Regions from separate parts of the Homo sapiens genome. Here region 2 is linked to region 1. Evidence: fine-mapped expression QTL. A gene starts in region 1. The other region holds a variant in brackets. All regions are shown on one strand. Distances are between the middles of the regions. Region 1 holds the start of GTPBP10 (GTP binding protein 10). Region 2 holds the start of CLDN12 (claudin 12).

Evidence for each region.
Region 2: its variant is fine-mapped to the expression of GTPBP10 in whole blood (INTERVAL, PIP above 0.99). The same link has a PIP of 0.9 or more in T cells, aorta, blood mononuclear cells, breast, cerebellar hemisphere and esophagus mucosa.

What each region holds. Positions count from the first base shown.
Region 1 is chr7:90,343,219-90,360,057 of GRCh38, reverse strand. GTPBP10 (GTP binding protein 10) reads right to left here and starts at 13,342. Exons shown (of 10, transcript NM_033107.4): 1 at 13,284-13,342; 2 at 7,049-7,242; 3 at 5,509-5,600; 4 at 4,828-4,972. The coding sequence starts at 13,316. It overlaps LOC107986715 (a long non-coding RNA gene), which reads left to right and starts at 1,020. Exons shown (of 4, transcript XR_001744961.2): 1 at 1,020-4,351. LOC101927446 (a long non-coding RNA gene) reads right to left here. Exons shown (of 6, transcript NR_110085.1): 6 at 15,964-16,839. RefSeq lists enhancers at 13,097-13,526, 13,737-13,876.
Region 2 is chr7:90,394,985-90,411,823 of GRCh38, reverse strand. It overlaps CLDN12 (claudin 12), which reads right to left and starts at 8,363. Exons shown (of 4, transcript NM_001185072.3): 1 at 8,275-8,363; 2 at 6,216-6,305. It also overlaps the pseudogene LOC101409256. RefSeq lists an enhancer at 7,658-8,183. The variant C/T (reference allele first, on the strand shown) is at 8,206.

The DNA of each region.
Region 1 (16,839 bases):
TACTCATCTGATAAAGGGCTAATATCCAGAATCTACAAAGTACTCAAGCAAATTTACAAGAAAAAAACAAACAACCCCATCAAAAAGTGGGCGAAGGATATGAACAGACACTTCTCAAAAGAAGACATTTATGCATCCAACAAACATATGAAAAAATGCTCATCATCACTGGCCGTCAAATGCAAATCAAAACCACAAGGAGATACCATCTCACACCAGTTAGAATGGCGATCCTTAAAAAGTCAGGAAACAACAGGTGCTGGAGAGGATGTGGAGAAATAGTTAACACTTCTACATTGTTGGTGGGACTGTAAACTAGTTCAACCATTGTGGAAGACAGCGTGGCGATTCCTCAAGGATCTAGAACTAGAAATACCATTTGACCCAGCCATCCCATTACTGGGTACATACCCGAACGATTATAAATCATGCTGCTATAAAGACAGATGCACACGTATGTTTATTGTGGCACTATTCACAATAGCAAAGACTTGGAACCAACCCAAATGTCCATCAATGATAGACTGAATTAAGAAAACGTGGCACATATACATCATGGAATGGTATGCAGCCATAAAAAAAGATGAGTTCATGTCCTTTGCAGGGACATGGATGAAGCTGGAAACCATCATTCTCAGCAAACTACCATAAGGAAAGAAAACCAAACATTGCATGTTCTCACTCTTAAGTGGGAGCTGAACAAGGAACACATGGACACATGGTGGGGAACATCACACCAGGGCCTGTCAGGGGGTGGGGGTCTGGGGGAGGGATAGCATTAGGAGATATGCCTAATGTAAATGACGAGTTGATGGGTGCAGCAAACCGACATGGCGCATGTATACCTATGTAAGAAAGCTGCATGTTGTGCATACCCTAGAACTTAAAGCATAATAAAAAAAATTTTTTTAAGTTAAAGAAAAAAAAAAAGTATGAGTTCTCTTTTCCCCACATCTATGTCAGCACGTATTGTTTTTTGACTTTTCCATAATGACCATTCTAGCTAAGTTGGTAAATCATTGTGGTTTTAATATGCATTTCCCTGAGTATTAGTGATGTTGAACATTTTCTTATATGCGTATTGGCCATTTGTATGCATATCTTCTTTTGAGAAATGTCCATGTCATTTGTCCACTTTTTAACGGAATTGTTTTTTCCTTGCTGATCTGAGTTCCTTGCAGACTCAGTATATTAGTCCTCTGTTAGATGCGTAGTTTGCAAATACTTTCTCCCATTCTGTAGGCTGTTTACTCTGTTGATTCTTTCTTTTGCTGTGCACAAGACTTTTACTTTAATTAGGTCCCACTTATGTATTTTTGTTGCATTTGGTTTGAGATCTTAGTCACAGATTCTTTGTCTAGGCCAATGTCCAGAAGGGTTTTTCCTAAGTGTTGTAGAATTTTTATAATTTCAGGTCTTAGATTAAAATCTTTAATCTATCTTAATTTTCGTATATAATGAGAGATATGAATGCAGTTTCATTATTCTACATTTGGATATCCAATTTTCTCAGCATCATTTTTTGAATAGGGTATCCTTTCCCCAGTTTATGTTTTTGTGTGCTTTGTTGACGATCAGTTGGTCTTAAGTATTTGGTTTTATTTCTGGGTTCTCTATTCTGTTCCATTGGTCTAAGTACCTACTTCTCTGTCAATACCATGCTGTTTTGGTTACTATAACCTTGTAATATAATTTGAAGTCAGGTAATATGATTCCTCTAGATTTGTTCATTTTGCTTAGGATTGCTTTGGATGTATTTCCATTTGTTTGTGTCATCTATGATTTCTTTCAGCAGTGTTCTGTAGTTCTCCTTGTAGAGATCTTTCTCGACCTTGGTTACGTATATTCTTTGGTATTTTATTTTTTGTAGCTATTGTAAAAGGGATTGAGTTCTTGATTTAATTCTCAGCTTGGTTGTTGTTGGTGTATAGCAGTGCTATTGATTTGTGTATACTGATTTTGTAACCTGAGAGTATACTGAATTCATTTATCAAATCTAGGAGTCTTTTGAAGGAGTCTCTAGGGTTTTCAAGGTATAAGATCATATGGTGGGCAAACAGATAGTTTGACTTCCTTCTTTCCAATTTGAATGCCCTTTTTTTCTCTTGCCTGATTGTTCTGGCTAAGACTTCTCTTTGCACACATCTTTGATTTCTTTCTTGGAATAAATGTCTACATGAAGAAATACCAGATAAAATACATGCTCATTTTAAAGGCTTTGATTATACTGCTAAATTTCCCTCAAGAAAGGCCCACCATGTATGAAAGACAGTACTAGGAATGGGGGTTACTTAAAACATTCATTGCTAAATCTCATTCATATATTTTCATTAAATTTATCCAACAAATATTTATTGAGCACTGACTTCGTATCAGGCAACATACTGAGCAATGAGACAAAATGATTCCCGCCTTCACAGAGTTCTTATTCAAATTTGAAGACGGTACTTCAAAAACTCTGCCAAACTTTCATTTGGAATAATGGTGGAATATTCTGCAAATATTAATTTGGAATTTTATAAAAGCGTATTAGCTGGAGGTATTTCAACAATTTCCCTCATTAAAAAAATCTTTCTGTCATGAATTTAAAATAAAATTATGTGAGGTTTCTTAATGACTTGTTTCTCCTGGAACATATAGTTTTTTCATACCCTGTTTCATCCAGGTTCTTATAGCTTTTGAAAAGCAAATTGCAGCTGTTTTTATCCATAATTATCACTAGCTGGACTTGCTTGTTTCCAACATCCTCATATTTTCATAATGATTGAGCACATAATGCAAGCAACTATTTCCAAGAAGATCAAAGTATGAATAGAAAGATGATGCTAATGACTGAATAACAGATATTTGAAATTTTTCTTGAAAAGTACCCAGTGAAAATTTTACAGGCTAAAATCCAACCTATGCAAAGATCAGATCTGACAACAGCAGCACAAATCTGTTAGTTGTACAATAACTTTCTTCTGTGATTCAGTCCATTTCCAAAACCAGCTAAAAGGATATCTACTTATGCTAGTATTCATAGTAGTAACTCTTCAAGAATAGTTGCCTAATTTAAAAACACTAGAAAATATGTTAAACATTCCACTTAAAAATCTTTTTCCCCCATTCTTGTTTGATATGCTTAAGAATCTTGATGCTTTAATTACAGACAAATTTCAAACCTACTTCTGAAAAGCCTAGTATTTCATTATATGCAGTTTTCCAGTAAGTTGGCAATATAATGATGATGAAGATAGCAGCTACAATTCATTGAACGTACAAAAATGCAAAGCATGTATTCTGCTGTAAATGCATTATCTTACCCACCAACATTTTAAGGAAAGACTTATCTCCATACACTATTAAAGATGAGAAAACAAATGACGTGGTGAAAAGCAAAAAACTATAGTGAAGGAAGAATGAGAGAAAAGAAAAGAAAAAAAGAAGAGAAAACAAAGGCTTAGAGAGGCTGTGTAATTTACCCAAGACCAGCTGGCCAGCCTCCAGAGGATTTGAGATCCTAACCTAAATAGTCTAACCTGAGTCCTCCATGCCACTCCACTTTTATGACTAAGCCGTGCTAGGCTCCTCTTAGACTGTAAAGTTGTCTCTTCAGAACTTGAAACACATGTTTATGCAAAATGCAACTGTGATTGGCTGGACTGCCAGTCTTGTCCATAAGACCCTATTAAGCCCATAATGTTCCTAAAAATATAGAGGATTATAGAACTTACATCTAATAACTCTTGTAACTGTGCTTTATTGAAAAAAATAAATGTAAATGGCAAGCCAGGATCACATCTTTCCTTGTTATAATTTTAGCAGGAATGGGGCCTCTGTGAACCCTAAACCAATGGTGGTAAGCTCTAGTGGCTGGTCAGGCAGGGCAAAAGACGAGGGATACAGACTTAAGAGTCTGGTAAAGAAGCAGTGAGATGACTGAAGAGGAACATGAAAAGAACTTAGAAAGAAGCTATGGGGAAGCAAAAAATAGAACTAGGAATTTGGAGTAGGACAGTAATAAGGCAGTTTTCCTTATCTTGTCCTTAAGCTTTCCATCTGAATAACTGTGTAATACTGTGATAGGGCCAGAGGGAGAGGATAGGAGGGAGGGGGGATGGGGGAGAGAGAGCAAATGCAAATTGAAGTTTTCTCTTCCTTTATGTATTCTGTATCTTACTATCTATCCCCTTCCAGTGGGCAGCTGCACTGCAAACCCCACAGCTAAACAGCATTATTTAATGAAAGAATGGAGGCTGGTGGAAGAGGACACTCTTGTGAGGCCTACATTGCTGAGACTAGATAGATCCTAAGCAGAGGCAAGAAGGATATACAGTCATAGCAGGATTCAATTTGGCGGCAACAGTGCGTAAGTCTGAGGATTGAGATTGTCTGTACTGGTCTTTAGCCATTTGATTAACGATACTTTAATGTCTCTATTAAGACCCAAAAGAGTTATGTCAACCATTTTTCCCTGTTTATTTCCTTCTATATATTTTTAATAATAATACGGTTTGTTTGGATTTATTATTAATATCTGGTAACATTATTTAACCATCTTGTAATATTGCATTTGATTGATTTTTCTTTCTTTATGCATTCTCTAACATTCCCACTGATCTATTCAATTGCTCTGGTCTTAATTTTATAAATAAGCAATAACTATGAAACTCTGTGTTGGCAATTTGAAAATAATATTTAGCAGCATATTTTCCAAGTACATACACAACACACAAATTCCATAAATTAGAAATAATTATGGCCCCAAATTACCATTTACATTTATTTTCTATTCAAGAACTCTCTCTCTGAAAGTATAATAATAAAAATATGAACGATACTTACCCTACTAGGCCTACATCAGCTATAAGTTTTAGATCAAGGTGAATTATTCGTTTCTGGCCTTTCAATGGTAAGAAATTTGTAAGTAATTTACCACCAAGACCTCCTTGAGCTACCAAAATTCTGTCATTTTCTTTATTGAGTTCTCCTTAAAAAGAGGGAGAGAAATACTTACAGCAAAGATTAATAAGTGAAATCACTAATGCAATATATTTCTTTCAGAAATACAGGCAAAGAAATGCAAAATTACAAATCTATAGATTAGTAAGTGAAATCATTAATGTAATATTTTACTTTCAAAAATACATGCCAGGAAATTCTCAATTACAAATCTATAATTAATAAGTAGAATCATTAATGTAATATTGTTCTTTCAGAAAAACAGTCCAGGAAATTCCAATTTACAAATCTATTAAAAGTTTGACCCCAGAAAAACACTTCAGTAAACAATTGAAAAGAGCCTAGTTATATATTTTAAGACCAAGTAAGAACTGTAACATCTTTAAAACAATCTTAAATCTAGCAGTCAATTTAACTTTTATAAGTTTTAAAAATGCTCTCTTATAGAATAGTAGCTAAAATTGTTAGTTAAAAAATCTTCTGAAACTCAAGAGAAGCTATTCCATTGTTTCATTTTAGAAAACGTGCACATTTTTACAACTTTTGGAGTTATAGTACACTCACCTATAATTTTACCATTTTCATCAGTTACTGAAATACCCACAGGCACAGGGATTTCACAGTCTTTTCCTTTGGAGCCTTTCAGTGCACTAATTCTACCAAAAAAAAAGTATATATATGTATGTATGTGTGTGTGTATATATACACACACACACATACACACAAAATGGTTTACAAAGAAGAGTAGCAATCAATTCTCTGGTTAACGCAGATGTTAAATGGTCAAACACGGGGTTTAAAAAAACTAAAATTATCCCTAATTATTTCTTTGCATTTTAGACTATTATATCCCACTAAAATGGCATTAAGTAATGATTTAAGTTACTAAGCTAACCACCAAAGGTCATTTTAACCCGAAACTAAAATATTGCAACCATGAAATGAAGAGATTATTGCTACAATACAAATAGGGTAGAAAAAGCCAGGCGTGGTGGCTCACGCCTGTAATCTCAGCACTTTGGGAGGCGGAGGCAGGAGGATCTCTTGAGTCCAGGAGTTCAAGACAAGCCTGAACACCATAGCACGACCCCATTTCTACAAAAAAAGAAAAATTTAAAAATTAGCTGGGCATGGTGGCACATACCCGTAGTCTCAGCTACTTGGGAGGCAGAGGTGGGAGGATCACTTCAGCCTGAAAGGTAGAGGCTGCAGTGAGCTATGATAGTGCCCACTACACTCAACCTAGGCAACAGAATGAGACTCTGTCTCAAAAAAAAAAGAAAAAATGAATCTATAAAAAAAAAAAGAAAATCCACCAAATAGCAAAGCTTTTAAAAAACTAACCTCAAATGAGAGTACTTACATTATAGAAGGCAAATCTGGCTACTCTTAAACTGCTCATAAAAGAAAAAATTAGTACAAATGTTTTAGTAATTCTACTTCTGGGAATTTATCAAAATAATAATTGAACAAACATGTAAAATAGTATCTACACAGAATGCTGCACTGTGGTTATAATCGGAAAAAAAAATCAACAATAACCTAAATAGACAAATGACAAAATAGTTATTTATTATGCAGGTATTCTGAATAATTTTGACATGTGAAAAAAAGTAAAAATAGCAGATTGTAAAATACTGTACTCTCATTTTTGTATTCTAAACTTTTAGGCACATAATTGCATTTGTGTAAACACACAGAAAAGTCTTAGAAAAGTCAAGAAAAGGTTAATAGTGGTTATCTTGCCTTCTAATGGTGGTGGGGTAGAGTAGCATGGTTAAGACTGAAAGTTTTCTAAAAGGTTGTCAAAGATAATTTTAGAAGAAAACAGTGGGAATTCAGATAATTATCGGTTTCTACAGGGGAAGTGCAAAAAGAATACAGATAGACATTGGGAAAAGAAACGGACAGAAAGTTTTAAAACTCTGAAATATTCTTTAGTATCAGTCTTTTATGAGTTGAGACATTTTAGGCTTTTGCTTGGTTATAAATACAGGAAATAATTTACTTCAAATTAACAATTAAGTTTTTATTTTGTAACTAAAAAAAAAATTTCCAGAAGGGTTTGATTTTCTAAAATTTAAGTCATTCAGTAATTACTTACTTGCTGTTTGCTCCTACTCCAGCCACAAACCGTTTCCGAGGATACCTGTCTTTAAGTTGTTTTAAAGTCATTCTGTTCTGGGCTACAACCCAGACATCACCACCTTTTCCACCTTCTCCACCTAAACGAGGATAACCCATTCCACCGGATCCTCCCCTGGTGAAGAGTCTTAGCTTATCGATGAAATTTCCATACTTAAAAAAAAAAGAGAAAGAATATTTGTATACCAAAAGTGTATCACCTTAGAACCTTTTTCTAGTTCTTTCTTCCACTAAAACTTCTTCTAAAAAAGTCGTTAATAGCTTTTCACATGCCAATTCTATAACATTTTCTTAGCTCACCTCCACATCTCCGATCTGACCCCCTTTCCCATTTGATTATCTCTCTTAAGTCCCTTTTAGTTTTTTCAGTTATCAATTATTGTCCCACCTATCCTGAGGGTTTCTGACTTGGCCCTGTTTTCATTCTAGACTTTCTCCCCTGGGTAATTTCTGCTTGTACCAATAACCATCACCTAGGTGAGATATTTTCTATGTCCAATCTGTCAGACATTTCCACCAGGATGAAAGCTTTTAATAGTATAAAGCAAATGTGAGCAGAATGTGTATTTAACTTATATTTGAAATTCCCCAATATGAAACTTGTTCTTACATATCAGTTGAATAATAGCCACCTCAAAAATAAATGTTAACATAACAAAACCAAACTCTTCCCCAGGTAAAATCTGTTCCTCCAATGTTCTCTAAAGTAACAGAACCATGGTTTACATATTCATTGAGACTACACAAATGGAAGTCTTTCAGACTACACCTGCTTCTTTTCCCAAAGCCCTACTCTCTTCTCTCCAGTACCACTGCCCTAGTACCTGCACCACATGAGCTCCTTTCAGTGTTTAGGCATTTTTTCCTTATTGCATTCTCCAACTTGTTGCCTGAACTATTTTTCTGAAATTGATCTGATCTCTAATCATGTTTCTCCTTTACTCAAAAACCATGCATTAAAAAAATGCTTATGAGCCAAGTGCAGTGGCTCATGCCTGTAATCCCAGCACTCTGGGAGGCCAAGGTGGGCGGATCACGAGTTCAGGAGATCGAGACCATCCTGGCTAACATGGAGAAACCCTGTCTCTACTAAAAATACAAAAAAACTAGCCAGGCGTGGTGGCGGGCGCCTGTAGTCCCAGCTACTCTGCAGGCTGAGGCAGGAGAATGGCATGAACCTGGGAGGCAGAGCTTGCAGTGGGCCGAGATCAAGCCACTGCACTCTAGCCTGGGCGACAGAGCGAGACTCCGTCTCAAAAAAAAAAATGCTTATGAAATAAAGTAAAAAATTCTTAGTACTACAGTTGACCCTTGAACAACACTGGTTTGAGCTGCGTGTGTCCACTTATATACAGATATTTTTCAATAAATATATTAGAAAAATTTTTTGAGCTTTGCAACAATTTGAAAAAACTTACAAAGCAAATAGATTGGAAATATTGAAAAAATTAAGAAAAGCTGTGTGTTATGAGTGCAAAAAATATATAGATGCTAATCTATTTTGTCATTTACTTCCATAAAATATACACATATCTATCTTAATTTTTAAAAACTAGAGATGGGGTTTTGCTATGTTGCCCAGGCTGGTCTCAAACTCCTGGCCACAAACAATCCTCTTGCCTTGGCCTCCCAAAGTGCTGGAATTACAGGCATGAGCTACTGCACCTGGCCACACATCTATTATAAAAACTTAAAATTTATCAAAACTTACACACACACTTACAGATCTTACATGGCAGCATTTGCAGTCAAGAGAAATGTAAGCAAATGTAAAAATGCAGTATTAAATCATAACTGCATAAAATTAACTGTAGTACATCGTGGAATACTGTAATAATTTCGTAGTTACCTCCTGTAACTATCCCGGGATCTCAAGTGTCCCAAGTTGCCACTTAAAAGGCCATGTGATGCTAATCGTCTCCCCATGAGCAGTTCATCTTGCCAGTACATTTTATAAGTCAGTAAAAAGTAATCTCTCACAGTTCTCTTGCATTTTTCATCATGTTCAGCGCTACACTGTAAACCTTGAACACCACCATGGAACCCATACAAAGTGCCACTAGTGATGCTGGCAGTGCTCCCAAGAAGTAAAGTCATGACACTACGATAAAAAGATGAATTGCTTGATATCTACCACAGATTAAAATCTGTAGCTGCGATGGCCTGCTATCTCAAGATAAATGAATCCAGAATAAGAATCAGTGTAAAAAAAGACAAAAATTCATGAAGCCACTGCAGCAGCTATGCCAAAAGGTGTGAAAACCTTGCACTTTTTGTGAATTAACTTTTTATCTTGTATTAAAAAGGCAACTTTTATGTAGATGCAGGATTCCTATTTTAAAAACATAGACTAATACAATAAAAGAAAAAGTAAGGTTACCATATGACAACTTAAAAGCAAAAGGAATGTGAAGGATCTAAAGCTAAAGAATTAATTGCCAGCAAAGGATGATTTGATAATTTTAGAAGGAGGTTTGACTGTGGAAGACAGTTCTAGATTCCTCAAGAATCTAGAACTAGAAATACCATTTGACCCAGCCATCCCATTACTGGATATATACCCAAAGGATTAAAAATCATGCCACTATAAAGACACATGCACACGTATGTTTATTGTGGCACTATTCACAACAGCAAAGACTTGGAACCAACCCAAATGTCCATCAATGATAGACTGGATTAAGAAAATGTGGCACATATACACGATGGAATACTATGCAGCCATAAAAAGGATGAGTGACATGGATGCAGCTGGAAACCATCATTCTGACCAAACTATCACAAGGACAGAAAACCAAACACCACATGTTCTCACTCATAGGTGGGAACTGAACAATGAGAACACTTGGGACACGGGGGGAACATCACACACTGGGACCTGTCATGGGGTTGGGGGCTGGGTGAGAGATAACATTAGGAGAAATACCCAATGTAAATGACAAGTTAATGGGTGCAGCAAACCAACATGGCACATGTATACCTATGTAACAAACCTGCACGCTGTGTACATGTACCCTAGAACTTAAAGTATAATTTAAAAAAAAAAAAGAAGAAATAGGTTTGGCTTTGGCTTTAGAAATATCAAGATAACAGGTGAAGCAGGTTCTGCCAACTAAGAGGCAGCAGATGAGTTCCCAGATGCCATTAAGAAAATCACTGAGACGAAAGAATATCTCCCAAATCAGGTTGTTAATGCTGATGAAAGTACCCTATTCTGGAAAACATGCTACAAAAGACATTAGTAAGGAAGAGAAGGGAGCACCAGGATTTAAGCCAGGAAGGGATAGGCTAACCCTACTGTATTGTGCAAATGCAGTTGTGTTTGTAATCAGGACTGTCCTTATCTATAAAGCTGCTAACCCCTCAATCTTGAAAGGGAAAGATAAACATCAGCTGCCAGTCTTTGTTGGATAAGAAGGCCTAGAGAACAAAAACCTTTTCTCTGGATTGGTTCCATGGATGCTTTCTCCCTGAAGTCAGGAAGTACCTTCCCAATACGAGACTGACTTGTAAAGTTCCTCTGCTAATGGACAGTGCCCCACCTCCCCGCTACCCAGAACCCCATGAGTTCAACATCAAAGGCACTGAAGTGGTGTCCTTGCCCCCAAACACAATGTCTGTAAATCAGCCTCTAGATCACGGGGTCGCAAGGACCTTTAAGGCTCATTAAACATGATTTTCTACGAAAAGGATTGTCAACCATGGAAAAGAACACTAATAGAGAAAACTTCAGGAAAATCTGAAGTTTACATAATTGAAGATGCCATTATTATTGAAAAAGCCATGAAAGCCATAAGCCCCAAACAGTAAGTTCGTGCTGGAGAAAACTTTGTCCAGGTGTTGTGTTGTGTTATAATTTCACAGGATTTACAAAAGAGCCAATCAAGGAAATCATGAAAGAGGCTGTGAATATGCCAAAAACGGCGGGAAAGTGGGTAAAGGACTTCAAGATATGGATCTTGAAGAAACTCAAGAGCTAACAGCCACCAAACCAGAGGAATTAACAGAAGACAGCTTGATGAGTGCTTCAGATCCAGTGCCAGATAACAAGGAAGAAAACACAGAATAAACTACCAGAAAAACGAACATTAGATAATCTGGCAGAAGAGCTCCTATTGTTCAGGACTGCTTTTGACTTCTTTTATGACATGGACCCTTCTGTGAAGAGGCACTGAAACCAAAGCAAATGGTGGAAGAGGTATTGGTACCCTATAGAAACATTTTTTTGGGGGAAAGAGAAAAGCAAAAGCATGACAGAAATTATGATGTACTTCCATAAAGTTACACATAGTGTGTCTGCCTCTCTTGCCTCCCCTTCCACCTCCTCCACCCCCACCCCTTCTGCCTCTGCCACCCAAGAGAGCAAGACCAACTCCTCCTCTTCCTCCTCAGTCTATTCAACATGAAGACTATAAGGATGAAGACCTTTACAATTCACTTCCATTTAATGAACAGTAAATATATTTTCCCTTCTTTCTGACTTTCTTAGTAACTGTTTCTTTTCTCTAGCTTAATTTAAGAATACAGTATATACTATATATATATTTTATATGTGTCAACTGACGGCTTATGTTATCAGTGAGGCTTCCAGCCAACAGATTATTAGTAGTTGTTTTGTGGGGGGAGTTGAAAGTTACATGAAGATTTTCAGCTGTGGCGGGGGCATCTCTAACCCCCATGTTCTTGAAGGGTCAACTGTATATCCAAAGCTACTAAAATACCCTTCTGGTATCTTTTATTTTCTTTTTTTTGAAACAGGGTCTGGTTCTGGTGCCTGGGCTCGAGTGCCGTGGCACTATCATAGCACTATCATTGCTGCAGCCTCAAACTCCTGGGCTCAAGCAATTCTCCCACTTCAGCCTCCCAAATGGCTGGGACTACAGGCACCACACCACCCCGACTGTTTTAAAGATGGGGTCTTGCTATGTTGCCCAGACTGGTCTTGAACTCCTGGCCTTAAGGGATCCTCCCACCTCAGCCTCCCAAGTAGCAAGAACAATAGGCTCACCTACCATGCCTAGTTCCTTCCTGTATCCTTTTCACTTGCTCAACCCTTCCTCTCTTCCTCTTTGCTCTGTACTACATGAAATACCGCCATTTCTACATGCCATTCTGCTCATGCTTTTCCTCTACTTAGAATGTCATTTGTTTTTCCTATCATAAATCCACCTAAACGTCATATTTTCTAACGTCTTTCCAAATTCCTCTAATCAATTCTCTGACTTTGCTGGCTCTCCCAGCAATTTGATTATATCTCTATTATTACACCTTTATAAATCTCACGCTGCATTTAGTGTTTACCTGTTTCCTTCACTAAATCAAGAACTTCTTGTAGGTAAAGGACTTACGTATTAACCTCTTAGGCTATTAAAATCAAAATAACTTAAGGAGTAATTTCTTAAATTCATAATCCACATCTCTAGTCATTTAGGATAGCTATTATAAAAAACAAATGGGATTTTTTTTTCAAGAAAGTTGAAATATTGACCATTCTGATATACTCGAGGAGAGTTTCTACAGTTCCATTAAATATGTAACACTTTTTTCCTGCTCTAGATTAATCAGATTCAGGGGTTTAGGAGCCTTACTTAAAAGGAGTATTTTACTCTGGTCGTTAGAAATAAAGTAATGGCCAAATATGACGCAGGCAACGTTTCAAAAAGCATTACTGATAGGATAAGATTTAAAAAATAAAAATTCAAAGCAGTTGTAAATTTTTACGGAAACGATTCTTAAGACCGACACCACACAAAAATCGACCTAAATGTTCTGCAGGAAGGCACATCAATTACACGCTTTCGTGTCTTCATAAAAATCCATTAGAAAAACCTTAAACAGCGCACTCAAGGAGAAATATATAAAAACAGGCTGTGGACATTAAAGGAAAAAAAACCACCACAACATTTGGGCCACAGCAGGCAGGTATCCCAGTTCCTCATACCACGTGCACACTATGTCTCTAAAGAACTTCAAACCCTGCCCCTGCCCCCAAACAACCGTCCAAACCACGCCAGGTACACACACCACTGTCACCGCTTACTGACAAAGCGCCACTACAGGAGGGGCGGAGAAGTCTATGGGAAAACCAAGCAAGGAAAAGGCCGCCACGAAGACAGTAGTGGAGAGACAGGGGAGCAAAGAAGAACCAGAGCTGTCAGCGCTAAGGGGACCAGGCTGAGGGGACCCGCACGGACCTTTCTGAACAACACGCAACTGCAATGCACCATGGCTGCAACAGGCCAGGAAACCTTCTTGCGGAAGCGGCACAAGCCGCAGTACAGCGCGGCCTTTTTACGTCATCCCCTGCCGCCGACGCGATTTCTCCTCCGCCCACACCTGCGGACTGGCGCATGCGTTGTGTGATGCTCTCGGGCGCCACCAGCCCCATGCGCTGTGCTTTGCACCCCACGGGTGGGGAGAGAAGGCGTTTTATCTATTAAAACACAGAGATAATCTCGAGAAGCCGTGGGACAAAGGACAGTAGGGCGTAGGTTGCGTGTCTCAGGAATTAACATTTTGAATGGAATGGAACTGAAGACTCAGCAGCCTTGGAGCAGCTTTTATGCTAATTGAGGAAACTAAGAATCTTCACCCTCAGCGTGAAAAAACCTCCAACGGACCATAAAACCAAACGTGTAAAAGACACAGAAACTCAACTGGGAAAAAAGAACCCCCAAAAGCCGTTAGTTCAGTGACGAGCTGAGTAGTCTCCAGCCAAAGCTTCCAGGAGACCATGAATTTAAAACTAGCGGCCGCACAAAGTTTTATTGAAAATAATGTCAGGATCTGAGATCTGTAAGAGGACTCTCCTGTGCAGTAAGAGAAAGAAGCTTGTTTACAACTGTCAGAAAGTAGCTTCTTGGAGTCGGGAAGACGGGTTTTTATCCGTCATTTGAAGCGTGCCTTTGTGAGAATTAAGACACGATGTGAAAAATCCCTCTCTCTCTTGATTACTTTTCAGGACCAGAAGAGAGTAGCTCTCCCCAACCCCTCATGCAGCGAAAAAATGTATGCAGCTGAAGTAAACGGCCCTGCACAGCGTTGCCAGCCGTATAACTCTTAACAACCCAAACTAATAAATCCTAGAAACCTTTCATACTTTGATACGATATGGCTCTGTGTCGCCACCCAAATCTCATCTTCATTTGTAATCCCCATTGTGGAAGTAGGGAAGTGATTGGATCATGCAGGGCTGTTTCTCTCCTGCCGCTCTCCTGATAGGGAGTTCCCACAAGAGCTGACGGTTTTATAAGTGTTTGGAAGTTCCTCCTTCTTTCTTCTCTCTCCTGCTTGCCATGTGAAGAAGGTGCTTGTTTCCGCTTCCCCTTTTGCCATGATTATAAGTTTTCTAAGGCCTCCCCAGCCATGTAGAACTGTGAATCAATTAAGCCTCTTTCCTTTATAAATTACCCAGTCTGCGCAGTTCTTTATGGCACTGTGAAAACTGACTAATACCTCAATGTGACAGTGTCTTCTACTCCTCACTTAGGACAGTGATTATTTGGAAAGACATGATGTGAAAACCCCGTCTTGATTACTTTGCTGCTACTGGACCTTCTGCTTACAACCACCAATCAGAAAAGCTGTAGTTGTCATTTAACCTGCAGTAGTTGTATTTTCCCTCTGTGGATTACTTTAATGTTGAATATTAACACCAGCAACAGATGTTGATTACTATCAGTGTTCCTACCTCTCATTAATATGAACATTAGGTTGTTGCTGTGTAGATGTTTTTAATTTAATGACATTTGCTGCCATTAAGATTACTATCTTACTAGGTTTTCCTATTGTGTCAGAATAGTGTTGAGCCCAATGTACTTATTTTCCAATGCCTATTTCTTGTTAGTGAACACAATCTCAAATACTTTTCTTTCACATAACATATACATGGGGAAATGATCACAGCAACTAAAAAAAAAAAAATGGGAGATTGATATAGAAATATCTCAAAATGATGAGGATCATTGTGTACTGTAAACAAAAAAGAAAGCATAATATTTACCTCTGACAAAATGTGGTCAGGGCCTGAAGTATTTATTATAACTCTCATTACCAGATAGTAAAAGAAACATTGTGTAACTGGAAACTGTCCCCTTTAAAATGTGCAGCTAAAATGAACATGAGGCAAAATGTTTAGGACACTATTCAGACCTAAGGCAGAAGTCATTGTTGGAAAATACTACTACTTCTGCCATGAAGAGGAAAGAATGCCTCCTTAGGGTTGCTCAGTTTGATGTATGGGCAAACCATTAAAGTCAGTGGCACTAAAGAGTCTTGAATAAAGTCCCAAATAAGCCATCGACATGACTCACAATTTGGTTTTAAAAATATTTTAAAACAGGCCAGGCGCAGTGGCTCACGCCTGTAATCCCAGCATTTTGGGAGGCCGAGGCGGGTGGATCACGAGGTCAGGAGATGGAGACCATCCTGGCTAACACGGTGAAACCTCGTCTCTACTAAAAATACAAAAAATTAGCCGGGCGTGATAGTGGGCGCCTGTAGTCCCAGCTACTCAGGAGGCTGAGGCAGGAGAATGGCGTGAACCTGGGAGGCGGAGCTTGCAGTGAGCCGAGATAGCGCCACTACACTTCAGCCTGGGCGACAGAGAGAGACTCTGTCTCAAAAAAAAAAAAAAAAAAAACAAAACAAAACCATATATATACACACATACATATATACATACATATACATATATACATATATACATATATACACATATATACATATATATGCATATATACACATATATACATATATACATATATACACATATATACATATATACATATATACACATATATACATATATACATATATACACACACACACACAATAATGAGGGTTATGAAAAAATTTAATATAGAGTTGTTCTAATTACAATTTTAAATAATTTTATTTTGAAGTACTTTTTAATTTACAGAAGTTACAAAAATAGCCAAAAGAGATTCCATGTAATCTTTATCCAGTTTGCCCGAATGTTAACATCTTTTATAACCATTTTTCAAAACTAAAAAAATTAATATTGCTAGAATATTAACTAAACTACAGACTATTTGCTTTCACTGGTTTTTCACCTATGACTTTACTCCAGGGTCTAATACTAACACCACATTGCATTTAATCTAACATTTAATGTAGATACACTTAAGCATAAAATAGACAAATATATAATTAACAAATCTAATATTTTGTGATGTTATATTGCTTAATTTTGTCAGCAGACTAAAATGAAAAGTGTCTAACTTCATTCTGGGCTTTGCAGATTATTTCAATTGATCTTGTGTCATCATCTCAACTGCTTTTAATTAGATTTCTACCTTTTGTCTATCATGCTTTTAGTTCTGCTTGTTCAAGAGTCCCTAACAAGGTCCGTCTGGCTCAGGCCTTGTAATCAGTAGATACTCTAGGAATATTTGTTAATTTATTCAAACGAAAGACAAGAACTAGATTGCTAACTCCTATAGCATACGAATCACCTGAAGTGGAGCATCGAGTTATTCTTACTCATTAGCCTTATAATCCTTCAGATGTAACAAATCAAATATTATTTGTTTCATGCCGTCAAAATATTACAAGTCTGAGAACCATTATATCTCCCAAATGATGAAGTTAAATGGATCAAACAAATGAGGTTTACATACTAGGTAAGACCTCTTTGAGTAAAAATGAAGTATTCTCAAAGAGAGGGCCTCAGGCCATGTAATTATTGTCTTCAAACAAGGCCTATGTGAGGGAAAAAAAGTGGATTTA
Region 2 (16,839 bases), 52 kb before region 1:
CATTCATTGAATGAATGTTAAATAAGAAAAAACAAACTGATCTCATTCCTATGTACTAGGCACACTAGGAAATTATAAAAAGTAAATGAGCTCATCTCCAATGAGTCAGTCAAATGAAAAGATGAGAACAATGGTCCCTGAAATTATTCTGCTTAATTACTTCCTTGTTGATTCAACATGACCCAATTACTTCCTTGTTGATTCAAGATGTAGATTTTCAGGGAAATCTACAGCACTTGTTGGTTATTACTACTACTGTTCATATAAGACGAATGCAAACATTTTTCAAGTAACGACAACCTATTTCTATTAATGCTATTATAAGAAAAACAGTCGCCAGGCCTTTCATTCCAAATTAAAAGGCCATGTTCTTTTTCTGTATATGGCAAACTATAAAAAGCTTGCATCTTATTCAGCTTTAATTTCCTCAAGGGTCTGATATTCACTCTCAAAGCAGGACTCAAATGTATTTTCTCTGCCTTCTATAATGCCTACTATGAGGCAATAGAGCAGACTACTTCAGTAAGGTTTACTTTTTTGTTCAGAGCATGATGAAGGGGCAAGGTTGAGAATAATTTTTATTTCTGAATACAGTTCCATCAACCTTTGCAGAATCAAACATCTGCTGGGATGGTGAAGTTGTGTTTCCAAGCTTTCAGGATCAGAAAGACAATTATGACCAAAATGCTAGGAAGCTGGCTTAGAATGTGATTGTTGCATGAATTCCAGTGGGAGGGCACAATGTTCTTTAGAAAACAATGTTATTTGTATATTTAATCTAGTCATATAATATAGGAATAATTTTTTCTTTTTCTTTCTTTTTTTTTTGAAACAAGTCTTACTCTGTTGCCCAGGCTAGAGTGCAATGACACAATCATGGCTCACTGCAGCCTTGACCTTCCAGGCTCAAGCGATCCTCCCACCTCAGCCTCCTGAGTAGCTGGGACCATAAGCACACGTCACTATGTTCAGCTAATTTTTGTATTTTTTGTAGAGACGGGGTTTTCTCATGTTGCCTAGGCTGGTCTCGAACTCCTGGGCTCAAGCAATCCACCAGCGTCAGCCTCCCAAAGTACTGAGATTACAGGTGTGAACCAGCCCTCCTCCTTCCACCCCCACAATTCTTATTCCCTTTCTTCTTTTCTTTCTTTTAGAGACATGGTTTCACCATGTTGGCCAGGCTGGTCTCGAACTCCTGGCCTCAAGCAATCTTGCTGCCTTGGCCTCCAAAAGTGCTGAAATTACAAGCTGGGATTATAGTCATGAGCAACTGCGCCCAGCCAGAATAATTTTACTAACCAAAAAAATGCCTATGTGTACATACATATATTCAAATATACACAAATAGCATATATAAATGTACAATATAAAAATCAGAGTTTAAGCACAAGTAACCATTTTTAAAGCCCTCAAGTTAAACATGGTTAGTTCTAAGTTTTTCCATTAGTATTAGTTTAGTATTTATTATGTTACCTTCTGTCAGTATTATCAGAAGTAGCAATTTCTTAAGAAAATTTTATGAAAGGGAGAGACTAATTACAGTATTTTTTTCAAGCAAATTGGGAAAAAGCTGTCTTGCTTAATTGTGGCAACCAAACACCTCAGTACAGCAATGGAAACTAGTACAGATTTGAGAATGTTTGCACTGGAAAAAGCTACTAGAAATGCCAAGCTCTAGGATACAGCTCTCTGGTGGTCTTTGCTTATTCATCTGTCTATCTCCCCCATACAACTTGTGTGCCTGGCACACAAGTGATTCTAGGATTATTTGAATAAACGAGTATTGGGCTCTGTACAAAGACCCCAGTAACTCACAAAGGTGGGCCACTGGTAATGAAGAACTGTACAAGGAAGTAGCTATTACTAAGAAGCAATCATTCATTCAGCAAGTACTTACATCATGCTGAGTGTCTAGCATATGCAAAACACTCTGTTAGGCCCTGGAAAGACACCAAGACCACTGATAACTGGACCTTGCTCCCAATGTGTTTATAGAGACTTGTGGAAAGAAACGGCTGTCTTATGTAAACTCAAAGTGTTGGTGGTGAATCAACTGTATAATTACTACGTATCAAGTGATTATTGTTAGGTGTTAAGCAAAGTGAATAAGGTACCTGTTCATAAAAATTTATCAGGCAGGAGTTAAAGACTGAGAAATGAAGGAGAATAAGGATTTGATTAAAGTTGTGAAGACATAGGAAAAAGGTTCCCTCGTTTCTTTCAAGCTTCAGAAGTCTTCAGATAACCCACTCAAAGTCCTAATGCAATCACAATTCCTTCTTGCTTTCAGAAGTAATATACTGGCTGGGCGAATTGGCTCATGCCTGAAATCCCAGCACTTTGGGAGGCCAAGGCTGGTAGATCACTTGAGGTCAGGAGTTTCAGACCAGCCTGGTCAACATGGTGAAACCCCATCTCTACTAAAAATACAAAAACTAGCCAGGCATGGTGGCACGTGCCTGTAATCCCTGCTACTCAAGAGGCTGAGGCAGGAGAATCGCTTGAACCCAGGAGGTGGAGGTTGCAGTGAGCCAGATCACACCACTGCACTCCAGTCTGGGTGACAGAGCACGAGACTCTGTCTCAAAACAAACAAACAAACAAACAAACAGGAACAAAAAACAAAAGTAGTATAGAAATAATTGGAATTTCAATGTAATTGAGATTTCTCCAATCAAACTGCCCTGTAACACTGATTCCTGAAATGTAAATGGAGTGAGAAACAAGATCAGGATGTATAACTCCATTATTAATAAATTCCAGGCCAGGTGCTGTGGCTCATGCCTGTAATTCCAGCACTTGGGGAGGCTGCGGTGGGAGGATAGCTTGAGCCCAGGAGTTTGAGACCAGATTGGGCAACATAGCGAGACCCCATCTCTACAAAAAAAAGAAAAATTAATTATTAAGAAAAATAAATAAATTCCTATAATTCTTAGCCTATAGACTATCAAATGACATTAATGAAGAGAGGTACGACAATATATATTTCAGTAGTAAGTGCTTTTAACTATATTCTGCATCAAATCAATACAAATATTATATTGGTTCTCTGAAATTGCCTTTGATGAAGCATTCTTAGCTCAGATCTCAGGGATGGACAGAGGCCTATCTATACAGAGTCAACAAGGATACCACGGCACTTTTTCAGAAGGGAAGTACTATTAACCTTAATTCTTAAGCTAAATTTTGGCCTGATACTGGAATTAATGTCTAGCTTCTTTTGGCTACTTCACCTTGTATGCCCTGTTCTTAATTTCAAATGCCTATGATTTGATAAGTCATATATCCCACCAGAGAGATAAAGTAATTTCTTTTAAGACAGGGTCTTACTCTATCACCCAAGCTGGAGTGCAGGGCATGATCACAGCTCACTAGATTTCAGTGAGCTGAGATCCTGGGCTCAAGTAATCCTCCTGCCTCAGCCTCCTGAGTAGCTGGGATAACAGGTGCATGCCACCATGCCAGACTAATTTTTAAGTTTTCCCTAGAGATGGGGTCTTGCTGTGTTGCCCAGGCTGGTCTTGAACTCTTGGGCTCAAGCAATCCCCCCACCTCCACCTTTCAAAGGGCTGGGATTACAAAAGTAAGCCACCATGCCTGAAGTAAAATTTTATAGGATAGTTTGGGGAAAGAATATGTTTGATGTTTTAAAACAAAGATAATGCTGACTTCCCGATTAGGATTTGTTCATACTTGCAAGGGTAAAAAGACCTCTACTCTTGTGCTGTGTCAATTAGTTTTAATCCACAATAATTTTTTTCAAATGCAAACCTCATCCGCCATTCCATTTCTTACCATTCAATAAGTTCCCATTTCCCACAGAATAAAATCTCTAAAGTTTCAACTCCTCCCCATAGCTTACACCACCTGATTCCTACCAAATTCTCAACCTTCGTATGTGCCACTCTCCCACCCCACACACTACAGTCTATGCAGCCAAACCACATTTCTTTTGACTTCCCAAATTTTCCACTTTCTGATTTGGTTAAGGGCCTTCCCTCATGGTCTTTCTCCTAGAACTTTCTTAATTCCAACCTATTCTTTGCTTGGCTAATATTTACTCATTCTTCTAGTGTCCAGGGAGGCTTGTCCTAAACCTCCCCCTGTCCCTGGTTATATGCTGTGGTAGCACTTTTGCACTTTTTCTTCTGTAGCAGTGATCATTCTTATAACTCCTTGTTCAGTGTAGTTTTCTTTCCCATCAGACTGTGAATTCCAGGGACAGAGATCCCTTTGTTTTGTTCACTGTTCCCTATACTGGCACATAAAAGGCACTCGATTATTTGCTGAATGAATGAACAAACAAATGGAGGTTCTGTATAACTCTGGTCAGAATACAGACAGAAATTTAGTCTCAGTTCCATTCACTTCATTTGAGAGAATTCACACCACCCTGTGTTCTGATACATCCAGACTGTTTCTAGACTGTGCCCCTGCTTTCTCCTTTTTGGCCAAAAGACTCCCATTTTACAAAACAACATTCATTTTCTTACCCCAGAAACCTGTGATTAGCAAAGACAAGGCCATCCTTAGGTACCTACATGCAGACTATGATTCTAGAAATATATATCTAGGTTTAGCAACACTGTCTAACTTCAACAAATGGTTTGAAAGTCAATTATTCCTGGCGCGGCGTGGTGGCTCATGCCTGTAATCCCAGCACTTTGGGAGGCCGAGGTGGGTGGATCACGAGGTCAGGAGTTTGAGACTAGCCTGGCCAATATGGTGAAACCCCGAGACTCCATTTCAAAAACAAAAAGTCCACTGTTCCGGTATTGATTTTTCTGTTTTCAACTTAACAGGTATGTCATGAATTAGACATACTTCTCTTAAGAGTGGTTAATATATCAAATTAATATTTATTAAAGCTAAACAATATATAGTTTTTTTAATGGAGAAAAAAAAACATCTTTTTGCCATGTGAAAATCCCTAATTAGGGACTGTGGAAAACGTGCAAGGCTAAGAACACTTTAACAAATCTGTCAAGCAGTCATGAGTACTAGCTGGATGAGAGCTTTGAGCTAGGTCATACATACACATAAGTGGTTTGTTGTTTCCATCCAGGAGGCTGCTTGGTATTGTTGTCCAGGAGACCAAAGACCTGAATAACATTCATAACCTATCATTTACAAACTGGACAAGTCACTTATGTCCTCTGAACCTCCAATTTTTCATCTGTAAAGTGTCCCACAAAGTAGTAAAATCATGAATAGCAAAGTCCTTTGTAAACCAGAATATGGTCAGAAATGTAAGTCAGTAATGATTATTAGCAGGCTTATTTACTTTTTTCAGCTAGAAACATACTTTTCTTCTGGACCCTCAGCAAATGACTACAGATGGTTATAGTCATATAACAAGAAGGACAGAACATTCTCTTTGGAGATACTGACCAAATCAAATAGAGACTCTATTTCAAATAACCACTTCACATTTGTCATTTGACTCTCTGTTCCACCGTGACTCAGAAAAGTAGATAAAATTTGATACACAATTAAATGTTATCAGAGACATAATTACGAATAAAAATATTTTCAAATTATATATTTTCTGTGGTTTTGAATAGAATTTAAAGAAGGCTGGAGCAGGAACAGTGGCTAAGAGCTTTAGGAAGTCATGTATCCAATAGACCCTGTACTATTTTTTCCAGGCACAATTCTGAGTTATAGTTACAAGAGTTACGAGAGTACATATGTCTAATAGCAGCTAGCTTCTATTTTTTTGAGACAGGGTCTCGCTTTCTCACCCAGGCTGGAGCACAGTGGTGCAATCATGGCTCACTGCAGCCTCGACCTCCGAGGCTCAAGCAATCCTCCCACCTCAGCTTCCAGAGTAGCTGGGACTATAGGCATGTACCACCACAACTGGCTAATTTTTTAAAATTTTCTCATACAGTCAGGATCTCGCTATGTTGCCCAGGATGGTCTCAAACTCCTGGGCTCAAGGGATCCTTCCACCTCAGCCTCTCAAAGCGCTAGGGTTACAGGGCTGAGCCACCATGCCCAGCCCTAACTTAATTCTTGATGGTAACATTGAGAGTTCCTTCTACCTATAATTTGGGTTTTCTTAGAAACTGTAAGTCATCAGTCATTGTACTCACAAGAGAGGTCTGTCCTATACCTCTATTTTGTTGAACAAGAGAAAAAAAAAGAGTCATTGTTGGCAGATGTGGTAGCAGGAGGGAGGGAAATAAGATATAATTAAAGGACGTACTTACGCTTTGAGGTACCTGACAGTTCCAAAACAGCTTTATTCAGCTTAGAAGAGACACATGAAGATCTGAATACAGAGTAGCAATAATCTGAGCCTAAAGAAATAGGAAAAATACTCCAAATTAACATAGTACTTCTCTAAAAACCCTGCTTGAATTCCCATGGATTAGAAGAAATGATTAGTAATCACCTAAAACCAATGAAATGTTATACTAAAAAGGGCAGACAGTAAGTTTTTTAAAAAGGCAGTTTAGCAGGGGCACAGTGGCTTACACCTGTAATCCCAACACTTTGGGAAGCTGAGGCGGGATGATCACTTGAGCCCGAGTTCAAGACCAGCCTGGCCAACATGGCAAAACCCCATCTCTCCTAAAAATACAAAAATTAGCTGGGCATGGTGGCTCATGCCTATAGTCCCAGCCATGTGGGAGGTTAAGGCACAAGAACCGCTTGAACCTGGGAGGTGGAGGTTACCGTGAGCTGAGATTGCACCACTGCACTCCAGTGTTGGTGACAGAGAGAGATTCTGGCTCAAAAAATAATAATAATAATAATTAGCCAGGTGTGATGGTGCACACGTGTTGTCCCAGTTTCTTGGGAGGCTGACATGGAAGGATCACTTGAGCCCAGGAGTTTGAGGACACAGTGAGTCATGATCATGCCACTGCACTCCAGCCTGGATGACATAGCAATGATCTGTCTCAAATAATAAAAAAAAAAAAATAAAAAGGCTGTTTATTCCTTAATTCATGCATTATATATGAGAAATATATAGAATATAGAAAAATACGTAGAAATAGAAGAAAAAAATTAACTCATCTTGTGACTTGAGAATATAGGAGAAATGAGGATGAAAAACACTTTGCTGTCTTGGGAATATATGATTGATATTTAATGAATGTTTTAGATCATTTTCATGACTACGGTGAAAGGATAAGGAAGGTGGTGAAAGACTGTGCAGTTGTCTTGGAAGTAAAAGAAATTTTCTTTTACATTTTTAAAAAAGGACACTGACAACAAGACCAGACAAAGTTGATCTGAATTCTGCATCCTGAAATTTGCAACCAGAATGCTTAAAAAAAAAATAGTTCCACCAATGGCTCAACCTGATACTTAAAGATGCTTCTATATATCTACTTTAAACATTAGCCACTTCCTCTTCAAATACCATTTATCTCAAACAGGTAGGATGAGAATGGAAACTCATTATTATGTGCGCCTGAGAGTTTCCTGGATTGAGGCGTTCATCACTAGCCCTATTACGATCATTATGTAGAATGCTCTCTGCAACTGGCTGCTCGGAGATTTCAGTCAAGTCCCCCCCAACCCCTCCCCCGCCCCAAATGTGTTTCTTGGGTTGGTATCAATCATAATTGCACACTCCAAAGTCAGAGGAAATCGTTTTACAATTAATAACGCACAATAGAATCCTTGAGCAATCATTTTAAGTGAGGTCACCAAGTCTGACCTTTCCCTAACGTGGCTATGGGCCCCTTACAAGGCCGGGTGCACAGAACTTACAGGAAAGCAAACCAAGCTTCCAGAGCAATCCGCATCCCCCTCCGCCCCCCTCCTCCCCCCTCCGCCTCCTCTCCTCCTCCCTCTTTTCGAAGAGCCCTGTGTGTGGTAGACCCAGACCTGGCAGAAGGAAGAAAACGCCCTACTAGTTAGAGCCAATGGAGAGAGACCGCAACAGTGACTGTTAACGCTCTCAGAGCTAGCCCATCCCTGCAACACTGAGTGGGTTTGAACCGCAAGCAGGTCATCATTACGCAACCAGCATCAGCTGGTTATTCAAAAATAGCAGCTTGGGCTCCCCCACAAACCCGCGCCAGCAAAGCTCCCAGTCCTTGGCGGCTCCGGCAACACACCTCGACATTTCCATACTCCTGTGTACAAAATAATTTTTTAAAGCCTTACCAAATACCTACTCAATTTTCACATCCACAGATGTGGTCAGCGTTTTCCAACGCTCCTGATTCTCCTGGATTTAGC[C/T]ATTTTACATAAAATCCTCAGTTACTTATGCAAAAGACCCAGAAATCGGAACATCTTGACCACACCTACCTGCTTCTCACACGCAGGGCATTTTACTCGCCCACACTGAGGAGCCTCTTGGAGCGTCTCCCTCTCAGCGTCCCAGGAAGTGCGTTCCCAGCGAGGTACACCGGAGGCTTCTGGGAGCGCAGTCAGGTTTTCCCGTGGCCCTGAACGGCAATGCCCTGGATGGCTGGGACTACAATTCCCAGAATCCACTGGGCCGCCAGCCGCAGGCAACATCCTGCGACCACCTCCTGCCCTTCCCTTTCTCTGCCTCCACCTCCCCGGATTTCTCTTGCACCTTATGTTCCGTCTAGAATTGGGTTATCGGTTAAAGAAAAAAAAAAGGCAAAACGAAACAAAACTAAAAGTAGTTTTGAGTTGGATACCTAAGTACCCAGGTGACTTGAAGGTGACTTGCCCGTAGGAAGGTTAGCAAAAATTCTTAAATCTGGATTTTTTTTCCCCTCAAAGTGTTTATCTAGGCAAAAAGTAGAAAAAGAGCTCAAAGTCTAGAACCAAACAGCCCAGATTTGTATGGGGCTTTGCTGTGTATTGATTGGGTGGCCCTGGGAAAGTTATCTCTACATCTGGAGGTTATCTGGAAAAATGGGGATAAGATCACCCACATCATACTGTTGTCTTGAAAACTGAGGGACCTAATATAGCTAAAGTACAGTATAGCTAGCTATTAGATATTTGAACTAATTTTACTCTCCCACACAATTTCTACTGTCCTGTCCCTTTCTCTGTTGGCTTCTCTCCAATGTGAAGTCCTGCATTAGTGAATGAATATCTGAATTAAACTAAAAGATTCCAAAGTCCTAAATAGCAATGATCTGATTTTTTAAAAAATAAAGGATGCTGAAGTGTTGTGATGCCTACTACTTCGAAATGATCACACATACACACACACATACACACACACAAATGGATATAAAGTGTGGCAAAGTGTATAATTGTTGGATTCATGAAGAATATGTTTGTGGGTGTCTCTTGTACTATTCTTTCAAATTCTCTGTATCTTAGAAATTTTTCAAAATAAAAAGAAGAAAAAGTATCATAGTTTATACAAAAGGATGGCACCCATCCCAAGTAAGTATAACCTTGGCAAGTAAGGTAACCCCTTTGTGCCTCAAGGTCTCATCTGTAACAGTATATCTACATCAGAAAATTGTGATGAGGATTAAATGAATTACTACAGAGACAGTTACAACAGTATCTGACGCATAATAAGGACTATATGTTTGCTATTAGCATTTTCCATTTTGCGTTGCTCTAGTAACAATGAGACTATTTGTCAGAGACTTTTTAAAAAGGGAGGGTAGAGAGGCTACTATCAGTCCACTGCTACCTCCTTCTTATGTGTGATACTGCTTTAGAGGATGGATAAGGTTATCTAAGGCCAGAAGCAATCCGATCCCAAAGCCAGACTGGGAAATGTAATAATGAGGAAGAAAGATAGCATTGGGTGGTGAAAAGATTTCTGGGCTCCAGGCCAGCTCTGGCAATAGCAGATGGATAATAGCAATGTGACAAACGATAATCACTTATTTCCTCTGAACTTCAGTTCTCTCATCTATAAAGCTGAATTGAATCAAATAACTATGTACAAAATCATCTTATAACTTATTTCCCAATCACTGATGAATACTGCCTGATTAGAGGACTTTAGCTGGGAGGTACTTGCAATTGATTACAATAATTTTAAAAAATCACAGCACAAAAAGGAAGGAAAGACAACCCTATTCCTAGACTTACTGTTCAAGCTGGGGTCTAAAATGCCTGCCTCTGGCATAGCAAAGATGGAACAGAATACTTAAATACCCTGTTGGAGTTCAATAGTTAGATAATTGGAATATAATTCTCAAAAATACTTTAGATAAGAATTTAGATCTGCAATTAACAATCCTGTCTTTCCTCTTTTTCTCATTAGAGATTCTTCAAGGAGAAAGTCAAATCTTAAATTCACTGCAGTGTACCATTCACCACCAAAATTCTACAGAGATTCCCATTTGGTCACTGTGTTAGATTTCTATTGCTGCTGTGACAAATTACCACAAATTCAAAGGCTTAAAACACAATAAATTTATTATCTTACAATTCTGGAGGTCAAAAATCTGACACAGGTCTCACTGTGCTAAAATCAGGATGTCAGCAGGGGTTTTTCCCCTTTTTTACTAATGTGTGATAGATGTTCATAGTGTTTAGAAGTAGATATGATCATATAATACATTCATATAATTTGTAAAGATCAAATCAGTGTACTTGGGATATTCATCACCTTAAATATTTGTCTTTGCTTTATGCTAAAACCATTTGAATTCTCTTCTAGCTATTTTGAGATATACAACACATTACTGTAAACTATAGTCACCATACTAATATAACATTAGTTCTCAGTTCTTCTATCAAACCATATATTTGTACCCATCAATCAACTTCTTTTCAAACCCCTCTTCCACCCTACCCTTCCCGGTCTCTGATGACCACCAGCCTACTCTCTATTTTCATGAGATTCACTTTTTTATGTCCCACATGAGTGAAAACATGTGTTATTTGTCTTTCTGTGCTTGGCTTATTTCACGTAACATAATGACTTCTAGTTCCATCCATGTTGCTGCAAAAGACAGGATTTCATTCTTTTGTAATAGTTGAATAATGTTCCATCGTGTAAATATAGCACATTTTCTTTATCCATTCATCCACTGATGGGCATTTAGGTTGATTTCATATTTTGACCATTGTGAATAGTGCTACAATATACATAAGTGTATTGTTTTTCCAATATATTGATTTCCTTTCTTTTGGATATACACCCAGTAGTGAAACTGCTGGATTATATGGTAGTACTATTTTTAGGTTTTTTGGAAACCTCTATACTATTCTCCACAATGGCTGTACTAATTTGCATCCCCATCAACAGTGTACAAGAGTTTCCCTTTTGCCTCATCCTTGCCAGCATCTATTATTGCCTTTTAGATAAAAGTCATTTTAACTGGGGAGGGATATTGTAGTTTTGATTTGCATTTCTCTAATGAGTAGTGATGTTGAGCATTTTTTCATATACCTGTTGGCCATTTGCATGTCTTCTTTTGAGAAATGTCTATTCAGATCTTTTGCCCATATTTTAATCAGGTTATTTGTGTGTGTGTATGTGTGTTTGCTATTGTTTGAGCTCCTTATATGTTCTCGTTATTAATCCCTTGTCAGATAGGTAGATCACAAATATTTTTTCCCATTCTGTGTGTTGTCTCTTCACTTTGTTGATTGTTTCTTTTCCTGTGCAGAGCTTTTTAGCTTGATATAATCCTATTTATTTTTGCTTTCATTGCTTGTGCTTTTAAGGTCTTACACAAAAAATCCTTGCCCAGACAATGTCCTGGAGGGTTTCTCCAATGTTTTCTTCTAGTAGTTTCATAGTTTCAGGTTTTAGGTTTAAGTCTTTAATCCATTTATATTTGATTTTTGTGTATTGTGAGAGATAGAGGTCTAGTTTCATTCTTCAACATATGGATATCCAATTTTCTGGCATCATTTATTGAAGAGACTGTCCTTTCCCCATTGTATGTTCTTGGTGCCTTTGTCAAAGATGAACTGGCTGTAAATGCATGGGTTTATATCTGCATTCTTTATTCTGTTCCATTGGCCTCTGTGTCTGTTTTTTAAGCCAGTACCATGCTGTGTTGATTACTATGCCTTTATAGTAAATTTTGAAGTCAGGTAGTGTGATATCTCCAGCTGCGGTCTTTTTGCTCAGGATTGCTTTGGCTATTTAGGGTCTTTCGTGGTTTCATATATATTTTAGAATTTTTTAAAATTTCTGTGAAAAATGTCATTAGTATTTTGAAAGGGATTGCACTGAATCTGTCAATAGCCAAGGTTAGTGTCATGCTCACAATATTAATTTTTCAATCCATGAACATGGAATATCTTTCCATTTTTTGTGTGTCCTCTTCAATTTCTTTCATCAGTGTTTTATAGTCTTCCTTGTGTGGATCTTTCACATCTTTGGTTAAATTAATTGCTAGGTGTTTTATATTCTTTGGAGCTATTATAAATAAAATTTCATTCTTGATTTATTTTTCAATTGTTTGCTTTTGGCATATATACATGCTACTGATTTTTGTATGTTAATTTTGTATCTTGCATCTTTACTAAATTTGTTTATCAGTTCTAATAGTTTTTTGGTGGATTTTTCTAAGTAAAACATCATGTCATCTGTAAACAAGGCTAATTCGACTTCTTCCTTTCCAATTTAGATGCTCTTTCTTTCTTTTACGTAATTGCTCTGGCTAGGACTTCCAGTACTATATTGAATAAAAGTGGTGAAAGTGGGAATCCTTGTCATGTTCTAGATCTTAGAGAAAAGGCCTTCAGTATTTCCCTGTTCAGTATAATGTTAGCTATGGGTTTGTCATAGATGGCCTTTATTATTTTGAGGTATGTTCCTTCTATACCCAATTTGATGAGGGTTTTTTTTTTATCAAAAAGCGATGTGGATTTTATCAAGTGCTTGTTTAGCATCTATTTAAATAATCATATTGTTTTTGTTCTTGGTTCTGTTAATGTGATATATCACATTTATTGATTTGCATATGTTGAACCATCCTTGCATCCCTGTAATGAATCTCACTTGATTATGGTGAATGATCTTTATAATGTTTTGTTTGAGAAAGAGTCTTGCTCTGTCATCCAGGCTGGAGTGCAGTGGCATGATCTTGGCTCATTGCAACCTCCACCTCCCTGGTTCAAGCGGTTCTCCTGCCTTAGCCTCCTGAGTAGCTGGGATTACAGGCATGCGCCACCATGCACATCTGATTTTTGTATTTTAGTAGAGATGGGTTTTCGCCATGTTGGCCAGGCTAGTCTTGAACTCCTGACCTCAAGCGGTCTTCCTGCCTCAGCCTCCCAAAGTGCTGGGATTACAGGCGTGAGCCACTGCACACAGTCTTTAACATATTGTTGAATTTGGCTTGCTAGTATCTCAAAATTTGTTGAGAATTTTTACATGTATGTTCATTAGTGATATCGGCCTATAGTTTTCTTGTTTCATTCTGTCCTTGTCTGGTTTTGGTATCATGGTAATTCTGGCTTCATAAAATGGGTTTGGATGTTTTCTCTCGTCTTCAATCTTTTTGAAGAGTTTTAGTAGAATTGGTGTTAGTTCTTGAAATGTTGAGTAGAATTCAGCAGTGAAGCCATCAGGTCCTGGGCTTATTTTTTATTTATTGATGGGAGACTTTTTTTTTTACTCATTATTGGTTTATTGAGGCTATTTCTTCATGGTTCAGTCGTGTGTGTGTGTGTGTGTGTGTGTGTGTGTGTGTGTGTGTGTGTAGGGCTTTTTTAATGTAATACATCTGAAAAGAATGCATATATAGAGTTGAGACATGAGAAAGCATTGGTTCAACACTAGTGAATCTATAAGAATTAGGATTGGGGAAAGGAAAAGATTACCTAAACATTTTTAGAAATTGGGAACTGCAACAAAAATAAGCTGATAAATCCCTGTTAACACTTATGAAGAGCCTTCATAAGACTCTTTCCATGATTTTATTAAACTAGAGAGCCTCATCTAGCTGCTCTAGGGTTCCTCATATGTGAAACAGAAATAAGGGGATTCCCTGACTGGTCCCAATGTTGTTAAGTGTTCTCCTCACCCTCACTTCACCCCCAGCTTCTTAATGAAGTAGGTCTTCATTCCCATAACTTGAAAGGATATGGATCATTCCATAGATGTCTGTCTTCTAGCACCACCTCTCATATTTCCTGTACATACCAGGTCTCCAGCTTCATTCTAGGGATAAAATATACTACTGAGTTGCAAATCTATGCTAAGGATATAAGACAATGACTGACAGGGAAAAATTTATTTTAAAATACATATTCTGGGAGGCCGAGGCAGGCGGATCATGAGGTCAAGAGATCGAGACCATCCTGGCCAACATGGTGAAACCCCATCTCTACTAAAAATACAAAAATTAGCCGGGCATGGTGGCATGCACCTGTAGTCTCAGCTACTGGGGAGGCTGAGGCAGGAAAATTGCTTGAACCCGGGAGGTGGAGGTTGCAGTGAGCCAAGATTGTGCCACTGCACTCCAGCCTGGCAACAGAGCGAGACTCCATATCAAAAAAAAAAAAATTACATATTCAATCCAGTTAGTGTATTTCCAATGTGCAATACTTTTCTTCATTAGTGAAAGAAGTTAGGAATTAATTTTCCCCCAAATCAGGAAATGGCAAATAAATGTCTTTGAAAGTCACAGTCACATATATAGTGCATACTAGAAAAGAGGAGGGACAAGACAGGTTCCACGCACTTTCATGAGTATCATCAGATACTGGATCTATTCAAGGGTAAAGAGAAAAGGCAACTTTCAAAAAGTAGCACATTATTAAATGAAGCATTTACTATACTTCTTCCTAAGAGCACCAGATTGAGAACATGTTTTCTAAATGAGATCTAAAAAGTGGAATGTGGAATCAATCTGTCCTCCTCCCCTTAAGGGCTGTCCATTGGTTAATTAAAATAAACAAGACTAAAAATCAAACCCCACCCATACTCCCCCTCCCAAAAAAGAGGGGGAAAAACTCACTAAAATGTCCCAGATTACTCTCCAGAATAGAACCAGGGAGCAGTTTTAACAATTCAAATTAGTCTGTTACAGAGTCAACACAGCATGCCTTGCTTTTAAACAAAAAATTAAATTAAAAAATAAAATTTTTTTTGGAACAACAAAACAAAAACTAATACTGATCACTTTTCTGACAATACACAATTACTCAAAATTAACTAGTACTGGGAGAGGGAAGGTGGGGATACTTATGGGCCTTGTCTCACACGAGTGCATGTGTGTAAGTCCAGGGCATTTGTCATTATCGCAAAAATGAATTTTGATTTTTAATCTCTAGTTTGATAAACACTGCTTTTGGTATGATGCCAATACCAGCTGTGCAGGAAAGGCTCTGGAAAGATGTTCATAGCAGCACACACTTGCAGCTCTTTTTCAGTTCTGGAGGCTCCAGGGCAGCCAATATGGCTTCATCAGATACATTTTTCGGCCTAATTTGCAGTTTCACTCCAGTGTTGCTTCGATGATTTTCTGTCTGGATGATCTGTTCATTACTGAGAGTGGGGAGTTACAGTCCCCTACTATTATTGTATTGTTGTCCATTTCTCCCTTTAGATCTATTAATGTTTGCTTTATATATTTGGGACCTCCGGTGTTGGGTGCAGATATTTGTAATGTTATATCCTCTTGCTGAATTGATCTCTTTATCATTATATAGTGACCTTCTTTGTCTCTTTTCAGTCTTTTATTTGTAGTCAATTTTATCTGATTTAAGAATAGCTACTCCTGTTCTTTTTTGGTTTCCAGCTACATGGAATATCTTTTTCCACCCCATCACTTTCACCATGTGTATCCTCATAGGTGAAGTGGCAGCATATACTTTGTTTCATATCCATTCAGCCCCTCTATGCCTTTTCATTGGAAAATTGAATCTATTTACATTCAGAGTTATTATTTGATAAGTACTGCCATTTTTTTTTGCTTGTTTTCTGGTTGTTTTGTAAGTCCTCTCTTTCTTTCTTCCTGTCTTCCTTTATGGTTAAATGATTTTCTCTCATTGTATGTTTTAATTAGTTGTTTTTCATTTTTAATAAATCTATCATAGATTGTTGTGTGAGATTACCATGAGGCTTACAAAAAATGTTATTTTAAGGAGATGACAACTTAGATTGCAAAAAAAGTGAAAAAAAACTTGTACACTTTAACTCCATGTCCCACATATTTTGACTTTTAGTTATCTCAATTTACCTATTTTTATATTACCTACCTCTTAACAGGTTGCTGTAGCTATTATTGTTTTTGATAGAGTTGACTTTTGCGCTTTATACTAGAGTTATAAATAAATTGCACACCATAATTACAATACTAGCATATTCTGGATTTATCTGTGTACTTAATTTTACCAGCGGATTTTATATCTTCAAATGTGTTGGATTTTTTTTCTGCATGGTTAGTGTTTTTTGCAGAACTTCCTTCAGCATTTCTTTTTTTTTTTTTTTTTTTTTTTGAGACGGAGTCTCACTCTGTAGCCCAGACTGGAGTGCAGTGGCACGATCTTGGCTCACTGCAAGCTCCGCCTCCCGGGTTCACGCCATTCTCCTACCTCAGCCTCCCGAGTAGCTGGGACTACAGGTGCCCGCCACCATGCCCGGCTAATTTTTTGTATTTTTAGTAGAGACGGGGTTTCACCATGTTAGCCAGGATGGTCTCGATCTCCTGACCTCGTGATCCACCGGCCTCGGCCTCCCAAAGTGCTGGGATTACAGGCGTGAGCCACCGCGCCCGGCAGCATTTCTTGTAAGATGGATTTGGTGGTAGTGTGGGAAGGGACATATATCTCCTTCATATTTGAAGGATTACTTCTGGTTCCAGTATACTTGGATGGCAGGCTTTTTTTCTTTCAGCACTTTGAAAATGTCATTGCACTCCCTCCTGGCCTATATGGTTTGTTGAGAAGTCTGTTGCCAGATGAACTGGAACTCCTTTATGTTATTTGCTTGTTTTATTTTGCTGCTTT